Homo sapiens: one gene and its partners. The protein of the gene in region 3 interacts with the protein of the main gene of each other region in a biochemical or structural test. Each region holds a gene or a part of one and is shown on either strand. Other genes may lie near its edges.

Region 1 (3,658 bases), on a different chromosome or scaffold from region 3:
ATTATATGAATATATACATAATTATAGATGAATGTGATGCTGTGTGTCATTGTATCACCAAATCTCTGTCCAATCTGTTAACAGACTCTTAAATAAACCATTTTTCTCAAGTTGTTACTGGCCTGTATACTGTATTACTTGTTTTTCAGCTTTCCTTGGTACATTCTTAAATTTCTGCATTCCGCCACCATGCTATCACCCTAATGGATCAACCTTTTTTGTTTTGCTCCATTCTCTCTGTTGTAAATCTGAAATTGATAATTTGTTTGTCTCAGAAAATATTATTTTTCAAGTTCTAGCGTATTGCCTACAAAAACCAAAAGAATTAAGTGTCTGACACTGTGAGGTTCAGCAAAACTGTGCATATATTTTGCTACCTGATTTTTTGCCAGCAAATGAGTGTTTTCTATTATAAATATAGTATATATTGCTTAAAAATTTGGAACAGAAAAGAAATTACTCCAATTAGGATGCCACCTAAAGTATAAGCATGTAGCTGTACTTTGAGAACACTAAATTGCATGCAGGTTTGTAGTGACTAGGTCTTCTTGCCTTTACTGAAGGAGCAGAATGAAGTCACAGATAATGGATAACCAAATCCATTTTGTGGTAAGAACTTCCTTACTTTCAATGTCTTGAAGAGATGAAGTATGTTACCAAAGGAGATTGGGTTTTTTAATATTACAGATGAGTGACATAGATTGTTTGGGAGTAAGTTTTTATATGTAAGTTTTTATGTTTTTAAACACATACTGACAACTTATGACAAACCTTTGGAAAGTTTTAAAACTCTGTTGAAAGGTTGTGCAAGCTGCTGATGGAATCTGTGAGCCTTTCTTGTTTCTTATCACGTTTTTTGGCAGAGCACATTTCTTCCTTCCCACCAACAGGTTTTGCCCTTTTTTTTCCCATTAAGATTCCTCCTGAGATTGGCTGTCTTGAAAATCTGACATCTCTGGATGTCAGTTACAACTTGGAACTAAGATCCTTTCCCAATGAAATGGGGAAATTAAGCAAAATATGGGATCTTCCTTTGGATGAACTGCATCTTAACTTTGATTTTAAACATATAGGATGTAAAGCCAAAGACATCATAAGGTTAGATAATTTTTTTCTATTTGGTTTTACTAAATTTATTTCAGATTTTCTACTCTCTGTGACTTTGATGGACATATATTGTTACTATTTAGGGAAAAATAAATAGTAATATTTGGCATTAATATGCTGTGTGTCATTTGCCTTTCATTTAATGAATGTGTTTCTGTGGTGCCACTGTAGAGATTTCTCATTCTTCTTAGCCAGACTAATGTTGAGAGCGGCTTCTCCTCCTTCTGTTTCTTTTCAGTGGAGTAGACTCTAAAAGAAAATAAGTATTGCTATTTGGTCTCTGGTTACCAATTACACAATCTAAAGAAATACAGCACAGTATAATAACTTCTCACACTGTATTTCATATAGCAACTAGTTAACATATGCCTCTTACATCTTAAAGCATTATAGCTACTGACATCATGTGAAATTACTAACTTCTATTTTGCCCATTAGGATGAGTAATCTACTCACCTTGATCAGTTTTGAAAGCACCAAAACTTCTCAAGTATCACTGTTTCTGGTCTTTACACTTTAAGCACTTTAAATATCTTTGGTAATGGATTTTATCCTCCTTTTTGTTCCCTTTCAGCACATCGGTCTTATTACTTTCTCATAAAATCCTTTGCTCCCTTTTCCACAGTTACTGTATTAACGTTGCAGACCTCAGCTCTGTCATCACCTCTCAACTTGACTGTAATATCCACCAAGGCAGAGACCATGGCTGTGTTCACTCACTATTCAAATCTTGGCACCCAACACAGTGCCTGGCATACAATTAATAGTTGTTTAATTACCAGTGATTTATACTTACTCATTCTCTTCTGCCTAAAATCTCTTAAATTTATATTTAACTTCATCTGTTTTTATGAGGAAGGATTTTGTTTTCTGAACTCCTGAGCTTGATTTCATTTTAAAGGAGTTTGTTATCTTTTGTGCTAATTGTGGCTACCCTTCATCCTACCCAATTATTTTTCTCTCTTGAAACTGGAAAAGATGGTCATATAAAAATTGGTTCAGTTCTTACTAAACATTTAGTAGAACTAGCTTTCAGTGTATTATACTGTATTATCTAACTAAATATTTTTAATATTTAATATTTAATTTAATATATAACTAAATATTTTTAAACATGTTTAACATTTTCAGAAAAGACAGAAAGACCTAGAGCAGATTAGAAATTGTAGGCATCATTTGCTTTTTGAAGAAAGACATTTTTTCAAATAGTGGTGCATTCTTAAGAAATAAATCAAGAAAGGTAATGTTGCTTTTTGGTCATATCATCAGGAATGTTGGTCAGATTCTTATTAGTTACAGGAATGAATTGATCACTACTCTGATGTAAAATTCACTTATGATTTAGTCTTTTTCTCTAATTTGAAACTGTGGCAACATTTTAACATATTTCAAAATATATCTTTCTCTATCCATTATATTTTTGATAACACTTTGACTCTACTATTAGTTTAAAGGTGGTTTTTTAGCTACCTAAACACTTCTATTTCATTCAGGTTTTACATTAAGATCATTAGGAATGAAAGCTAACATCTGCTGATAGTATAATAGTTTATATTTATTTATGATGTTATGTGATCTCACTATCCATATATACTATTATATGCATATGTGATATACATGAATATATAGCTATACATCATATATACCATATATGAATATATACACACACATATATAATGTAACTAATATGACCCTATTATCAAGCTTTAACAGTATACATATATCTCTACCTTGTTTCTATGTCATATGGACTTTGTGAAATTTTGAACTTTATAATTTATAGGGTTTTTCTTTTCTTTTCTTTTCTTTTTTTTTTTTTTTTTGAGACTGAGTTTCACTCTTGTCACCCAGGCTGGAGTGCAGTGGCCTGATCTTGGCTCACTGCAACCTCTGCCTCTTGGCTTCAGGCGATTCTCCTGCCTCAACCTCCCAAGTAGCTGGAATTACAGGCACCTGCCACTGTTCCCGGCTACTTTTTGGATTTTTAATAGAGACGGGGTTTCACTATATTGGCCAGGCTGGTCTCAAACTCCTGACCTCATGATCCGCCCACCTCGGCCTCCCAAAATGCAGGGATTACAGGTGCGAGCCACCGCACCTGGCGTATAATTTGTAGGGTTTTTCATACTATTTAAAGACATTAGAATATGTATACATGTATGTATATGTGTGTATATATAGAGGTATATATATATTGCATATCGTATTCTAATTAGTATTGCAAACATATTTTGGCCTTTTGATTATTTCTGGTGATAGTGTAACATGTTTTCTTTGGTGATTTTACCAAACATTATCAACTACCCTAAAATCTCTAGCAAAATATATGCATTAACAGTACTCTGAAAGACATGTACATTATTAGTTATATGAGATATGCACTCTTCTGGATACTATATTTTAGAATAGTGTGACATGTAAAAGAACTCACCTAAATCTCAAGTATACTTTTAAGCAGTTTATTATTTTATTTTTATCTTTCAAATACTAGGTTTCTTCAACAGCGATTAAAAAAGGCTGTGCCTTATAACCGAATGAAACTTATGATTGT
Region 2 (3,658 bases), on a different chromosome or scaffold from region 3:
ACATGCCACCACACCCAGCTAATTTTTGTATTTTTAGTAGAGATGGGGTTTCACCATGTTGGCCAGGATGGTCTCAATCTCCTGACCTTGTGATCTGCCTGCCTTGGCCTTCCAAAGTGCTAGGATTACAGGCATGAGCCACCATGCCTGGCCGATGATGAGGTTTTAAAAACAGGAGTTTTCCCTGTACAAGCTCTCTCTTTGCCTGCTGCCATCCATGTAAGATGTGACTTGCCCCTCCTTGCCTTCCACCATGAGGGTGAGGCCTCCCCACCCTCGTGGAACTGTAAGTCCATTAAACCTCTTTTTTTTATAAATTGCCCAGTCTTGGATATGTCTTTATCAGCAGCAGGAAAGTGGATTAATACACCTTACAATATTCCCCATGAAAATATCTGCATATATATTTGAGATTCTTTTTAATGACATGTTATACAGCATAGTGATTACAGAGTTGATGTTTAAAAGAGTGATCCTGCATGACTTTTATCCTTAAAACTCTTTTAAAAACACTTAAAAAAAAACTTTTTAGAAATGAAAAATGACTGCCTACATAGGATATTGATTAGTACAGAGACAAATACTATTTTTGGAGATACTCTCCATTAGTATTAGTAAGCAATTATCAATGTGCTGTAGTCAAACAAAAAGTGAAATGTGAAAAGGAGCACTCTCACCTGATGTATTCCTCTTTATTTTCTTCTGTTACAAGAATATTGCCACCATTAGGTTTCAGATCATGACTCTTAATTTCACCTAGAATTTCTTTGTCAACGGAGAAGTACATTTCCAAATCACATTCCTCAATATTGTTTTCCCTGCACAAATGAAATTAGCACTATTTGTTATATCCACCAATTCAATCATAATTTATAAGTTTTTAACGAAAGGCCCATGTTCTTAAATAATTAATATTAAGCTATAACATCAAAATAAGAAGAAATAAGATTCTGTTCTAAGGTCATATTATTGCCGAAGATCTTGGGTGTATTTTTGTAAAATTTATCATATTGAATAAAAAGACAGGTTTGATATATAGATCATTTAAATACAATAAACCAATTATGTGCCTACAGTTTGGATAAGTTATCAATACTACACGGAATGCATATAACTATATTTTAATAAATTACATGGAAAAAGAAACTTACTTAACCCAGATGAGAGAATTGTAAAATTCTGGATCAATAGATTCTAAATCCTTGAGTCCAACTGGTTTGTTCAAGATACGCTTATAGAATGGTAAAGAAAAACCCGTGTCTATGAATTTCCCATGGAACAGAGCCTATGAAAAAAGGAAACAAGACCGCTTAAAATAACTGTACAATAATCATTTTATTTCAATATATTAGATGTACTCTTCATTTAAAAACACTTCCCTGGGTCAGGCATGGTGGCTCACGCCTGTAATCCCAGCAATCTGGGAGGCCGAGGTGGGTGGATCACCTGAGGTCAGGAGTTCGAGACCAGACTGACCAACATGGAGAAACCCCATCTCTACTAAAAACACAAAAATTAGCCGGACATGGTGGCACATGCTTGTTTGTAATCCCAGCTACTCGGGAGGCTGAGGCAGGAGAATTGCTCGAACCTGGGAGGCAGAGGTTGTGGTGGGCCGAGATCACGCCATTGCACTCTAGCCTGGGCAACAAAAGTGAAACTTTGTCTCAAAAAAACACTTCCCTGGCTGGGCACGGTGACTTATACCTGTAATCCCAGCACTTTGGAAGGCTGAGGCAGGTGGATTACCTGAGGTCAGGAGTTCAAGACCAGCCTGGCCAACATAGCAAAACCCCTTCTCTACTAAAAATACAAAAATTAGCCAGGCATGGTGGCGCACACCTGTAATCCTAGCTACTTGGGAGGCTGAGGCGGGAGAACTGACTGAGTCCAGGAAGCAGAGGTTGCAGTGAGCCAAGATCGTGTCACTGTACTCCAGCCTGGGTGACAGAGCAAGACTCTGTCTCAAAAATAAAAAACAAAACAAAACAAAAAACCACTTCCCTTTCTCTCATATGATCTGTTATGGCACCTAAGAGAAAATTTAGTATTGCTGAATAAGCAAAGTAAACATAATTCTTGACCTGCACTTACCATGGCAATAAATCTGCCAATAAAACGAAAATATTTCAGGTGATCTGGATTGATGTAAGAAGCGGGGTTTATCTGCAAGCAGTAGTTATCCTTCCCTGCATATTCAAACAGGCAATACATTGGGTTCAACACTTCATGTGACAAAAGAAAGAACCATTCTCTGAAATCAAAAGAAAATTTACGATGAAAAATCTTGTAGGTTACCAAGAAATCAAAGAACAGTGCTATAAAGTTCTCAGGGATCTATACCCCTCAGCTAGTGATAGTTTTCTAATCTCATGTTGATTTTTATTGCTTCTGTTCAAACTCACATCTGTTTCACAGAGTTGGTAGTATACACCATCTTTGGTAGATGGTAATATATACATTATTACATTTCAAAAAATCTAAGACAACATTGCACCTTTATTTGATGAACGACTAAATTGTATTTTCCAATTTTACCTGAGATACATCGTAATTTCAGAGATATTATAAAATGAAAATATTAGTCTTAGAATCAATGAAATACTATTCATAGGCAAATTTAAAATTCACTATTTACCCATGTGAGTAAAGTGGCTGAAATCAATCTAATATTCCATCTATTACTAAGTCCCATAATAATCCCCATCAAGTGCCACTACTCCCTACACGTTAAATCAATATGAAAATTCTTCCAATTTCACAGAGGCAGTAAAGTTCTTAATTCCAGCCACTCACATATTAGAAAAATGCTGAGACTCTAAGTCAAATATTGTGAAAATATGAACCAATATTAACATAAGATTATGGTTACTAAAACTACGTAACATGGGTGATCTGGGGTAATACATGTGGCATAAGCCTGTAATCTGGATCTCTTTTCCTGTTAGTTCATGGCCTCTTGTGATAAGTGTATCTCATGACACACTTTAATATTGCTAGTTTATTTTCTTATTAGGAATGAATGATTGCTCTCCTCTTCAATTGCCTTTAACTTATACAAAATTACATGTTTCTACTCATATTTGTTATTTATCTATGATTATATCATATATTTTGAAATAATTTTATTTAAACTCAGAAACATAATATAAATAAGAACTACTAAAATGTAGCCACCAATTAGCGTGCACACAAAGACACAGGCTCTGAACTAGGTCATTAATAAACAATATTTCTACTCTTCACAATAATCCTAGAAATGTAGATATTAATATTCTTATTTTACAGATGAAAATATTTGCCCAACATCACACTATTGAGAGCAGAAAAAGATTCAAATCCCGTCTTGACCCCAAAGTCCTTGTCTTTGCACAATGCCAGCTCTACGCAAATTTTTAACCTGGTGTGATATATTATCATGGAATAAGCAAAGCAATTCTCATTAGAGACTATCTTCTAGGGTCCAATATTAAGCTCCAATATGAAGAAAGCAGAATTAAGACTTTCAACTCCTATTTTGTACAACCTTCTATATTTTCATGACAAATATACTAATCTCAGTTGGAAACTGAGTAACTATTACCTGTATCAGTAATCTGTGGTGGGGAAAATGACCTGATCACTATAAGGCCTTGTGTTTTCTGTGGAACAGATATAA
Region 3 (3,658 bases):
GGCCAAGAGTTTATCAGCCTTTGTGTTCCACAGATGAAGGTCAGCAAGAAAACAGAAGTCTTACATCTCCTGGGCCTGCAAAGCATATCTCTGCACAAGAATGACGAAAGTCTGTTTTAAAGAAAGTCTGAGTCTTTCTTAGAAAGCTGAATTCAAAATATTCTACTTTATCTGGGCTGCAATTGCATTTTCAAAGCCTGCTTCAATCAAATATAATTCTTAGTCAGTGTCACACAACAAAAACATTTAGTCACTGTTAGTATCGAGACAAGCCCTAAAACTGTAAATAACAATTTCAGTTCATTCTCGGGGTATCCTTAATAAATATGTAAATCACATTTCCCAAATACTCCATGTCTAATTTTTTTTATTTCTTGCCTTTGAAACTATTGTGCCATTTATCCCTAGTTATCACGATAAACAAATGATCTTCCAAACTGAGTCAAGAAATCTGCCCAGCCAGTCAACATCCACAAAACCAAAAGTTTAAAAGGTCTTACCACACAGGTTAGGTGTCTACACACACACACACACACACACACACACACCGCTTTTACATGTTCATCTGAAGAAAAAGTGATATGGGAAGATATAACAAAACCAAAAGAGGATTGAAAAATGCAGTAAGTTGAATTTGTAGTAGCACTAAGCCTATCCATTCATAAATAATCTAGAACACCTATAATATCTAGCCTGTGACTCTTACTTTTTTATTATTTATAGCACTAGGTTTGAAAACATATATATCAAGGAGGAAACCAAGAAAGAACAATTTTATTCAATTCTAAGCTTATCTTTAGTTTAAAACAGTCTACAAAGATGGAAAGAAATGCTGCTGGCAGGGAGGCCTCAAGAAACAACCACAAAACCTTATGTGTCACATTTAGTAGTGTGCTGGTCCCCAAAGAACCATGGCAACATTGAAGAAAGACATTAACACCTAGGGAAATGTCTGAAATACAGACACTACATTTTCATTCAAATACAGATCAAAATCCAGGCTGTAGGAACACTGTATGCAAATATACTGGGGTAAGATGAGTTTGATATCTATGGATGGATAGTGTACATCTGTCTCTTTGCAGGAAAAGAGGCTCCAGGTTGCAAAATACTGAAGGCCTCTACCTTTGCATTTGTTGGTGTGCTTCATCTACCCCTAAAAAAAAGGACTAACAATATTCAAAATATGCAGCTTCAGACTCTGTAATACATAGTGAATTCTGCTAATGAACTCAAGGCTTCCCATTTGTCTCACTAAGGGACGGTGGGAACTTTCTGAGAAGTTACCATCTGTTTAATGAGTTGAGTTCAATATAATGAAAAAACAATAATCAGAGAAGACCACAACTGCTAAATACCAAGTAAGAGAAATAAAGCAAGACAATGAAAACAGGAGCTGACTGGGATAATTTAGCAAAGTTTCATGGAGAGGCTAGGACCTGAGCTTGGGCCTTAGGGTAAGGGAAATATTCTAGCAGTTTCATGGTAAAACCGTATGACTAATGGCCAGCACAAAAGAGCACAGGCTCTCTGTGCAATGACTATCAAGCAAGAAGGCCTGGACTTAACACTTACTGCCATGTATGGCCTACAGCCAGCATCTCTTGTCTTGGCAATAGAGTCCACAAGCTGTCCACTGATGCCGAAGTCACAGAGCTTAATATTTCCACTTCTGTCCAGAAGAATATTGGAAGGTTTGATATCTGCAAGACATAGATATCATTCAGTATACAATTAGCTTCTTCCTAAGTTACATAAGGCTTCACTTTAAGCAAAAATATTGAAAAACCTTAGACAACATAAGTGGTCAAGTCCTTAAATTCAGATATATAAGAAGTAAAACATCTTCATTTATCACATACAATAATTATTCATGTTTTAAACATGTAGCTTTAATAACTATAATTGTGTAAATGTAACAGCAAAAGTCATTTCACAAACATTAATCTGTAAGATATAGATGGGGATTGATTTTTCTCTTAACATCTTCATATTTATAAAACACAGAAAAAACAATGGTTTTCTTCTATTGAAAATGAGAAAGGAAAACAATTTTCTGAATGCCAGTGCTTAAAAACTGAATATCAAAAAAAATTTTCACAAGAAATTTAGGCATTAAATTGTTTTCAAGAGGCTTACAAATTCATTTACTTAGTCCAGATTCATTACATAACAGTCAAAATATAAGGAATGTCAAATCCCTTTCTCATTGACAATCAAGTCACTACCAGTATGTGCCAACTAATTCTCTATCCATAGCTCAGTCCTTTTATCCATGTCCTTGTCACTATCCTGGCTCAATGAATAAAAAATAAGGTTTTAAAATATAGGATGCAGAAAACATCTAAATGTAACTCAGAAGGTGATCCACAAAAAAATTCAGTAAAGATCTCTTACCATGACCGAAACAGCTGTGGGCCTATCAAACATCCATTCCTAACCATCCATGCTTTTTTTTTTTTTTTTTTTTGAGACAAGAGTCTCGCTCTTTTTTACCCAGGCTGGAATGCAGTGGTGCAATCCCCACTCACTGCAACCTCCGCCTCCCAAGTTCAATCGATTCTTCTGCTTCAGCCTCCCAAGTAGCTGGGATTACAGGCATGCGCCACCACACCTGGCTAATTTTTGTATTTTTAGTAGAGATGGGGTTTCACCATGTTGGCTAGGCTGGTCTCGAACTTCTGACCTCAAGTGATCCAGCTGCCTTGGTCTCCAAAGTGCTGGGATTACAGGTGTCAGCCACCACACCCAGCCCCATCCATACTTTCTAACAGAACCTGTGTTTTATTGAAGTATCTCTTCTCATCAACATCCACACCTCGAAAACCTGGCTGTTGGCTGGTATAAGTTTTATAAGGGTAGTCTCATGCTTCTTGATAGTAGCTGGTTTAAGGGCATGAGGCACTTCTGGTGAATGAGCCAAGAAAAGGTATTAGAGACGTGGGAAAAGTTTCCATACTCCCTACAGAGCTGCACAGCACGAGAGCACCTCTTCTTCACGAGGCAGCCACATATAGACATGATAGTGGGAACTGCTCTAGTTGTTACTACCCTGAGGACAGAGTTAACACATGAAGGAGGACAGAAGGAAGAGGAGCATATTGTGCTTTGAGCCACCCCATCTTTGGACTAATTATGACAGATAATGAATTTCCCTGAAGTTTAAAGAGAGTTATCAGGATTTTCTATTACTTGTAATCAAAAGCACTGACTCCAACAAAAAAGCTAACTGATCCTAACTGATAAAAGATGGCTATAAACTCATCACTTCATTTAGTAAGAGAACAATAAAAGTTACTTCTGAAGTTTTTTTATTTTATTCAACTACTCCCCAGGCAGTACCTTGGTGCTTTACTGTGATCAGTAAATATCCCTAAGGTAACTATCAAATGCCTCAAAGGTGCTACTCTCATAATTATAGAACACAGCTAACAAAGAAGGGAAAAAAAAAAAAATCAAGACAAGAACAAGAAGAAATACAAGAGAAACAAAGAATTTTGTTTAGGGACCTAACTCTACATAATTTTAGGCCAAAAGAAAAAAAGATATTATTTCTAACAAGCATTAAGCCAAACAAAATTAAATAAAATTTACTGATGTTCAAGGTTCACTAATTTCAGTGGCCTAGTGTCAACCACAAACAAAAGAACTTAAATAA

Evidence for each region.
Region 1: of the proteins of MAP2K4 (region 3) and LRRK2, one has a biochemical effect on the other in vitro, tested with the Homo sapiens proteins (one study listed by BioGRID).
Region 2: the proteins of MAP2K4 (region 3) and ITCH form a complex in vitro, tested with the Homo sapiens proteins (one study listed by BioGRID).

What each region holds. Positions count from the first base shown.
Region 1 is NC_000012.12:40,304,869-40,308,526, forward strand, and holds part of LRRK2 (leucine-rich repeat serine/threonine-protein kinase 2), read left to right. Parts: intron 1-916; coding exon 917-1,098; intron 1,099-3,598; coding exon 3,599-3,658. UniProt on the Homo sapiens protein: Serine/threonine-protein kinase which phosphorylates a broad range of proteins involved in multiple processes such as neuronal plasticity, innate immunity, autophagy, and vesicle trafficking.
Region 2 is NC_000020.11:34,478,226-34,481,883, reverse strand, and holds part of ITCH (E3 ubiquitin-protein ligase Itchy homolog), read right to left. Parts: intron 2,255-3,658; coding exon 2,095-2,254; intron 1,286-2,094; coding exon 1,152-1,285; intron 819-1,151; coding exon 678-818; intron 1-677. UniProt on the Homo sapiens protein: Acts as an Acts as an E3 ubiquitin-protein ligase which accepts ubiquitin from an E2 ubiquitin-conjugating enzyme in the form of a thioester and then directly transfers the ubiquitin to targeted substrates.
Region 3 is NC_000017.11:12,111,278-12,114,935, reverse strand, and holds part of MAP2K4 (dual specificity mitogen-activated protein kinase kinase 4), read right to left. Parts: intron 1,704-3,658; coding exon 1,576-1,703; intron 1-1,575. UniProt on the Homo sapiens protein: Dual specificity protein kinase which acts as an essential component of the MAP kinase signal transduction pathway. Essential component of the stress-activated protein kinase/c-Jun N-terminal kinase (SAP/JNK) signaling pathway.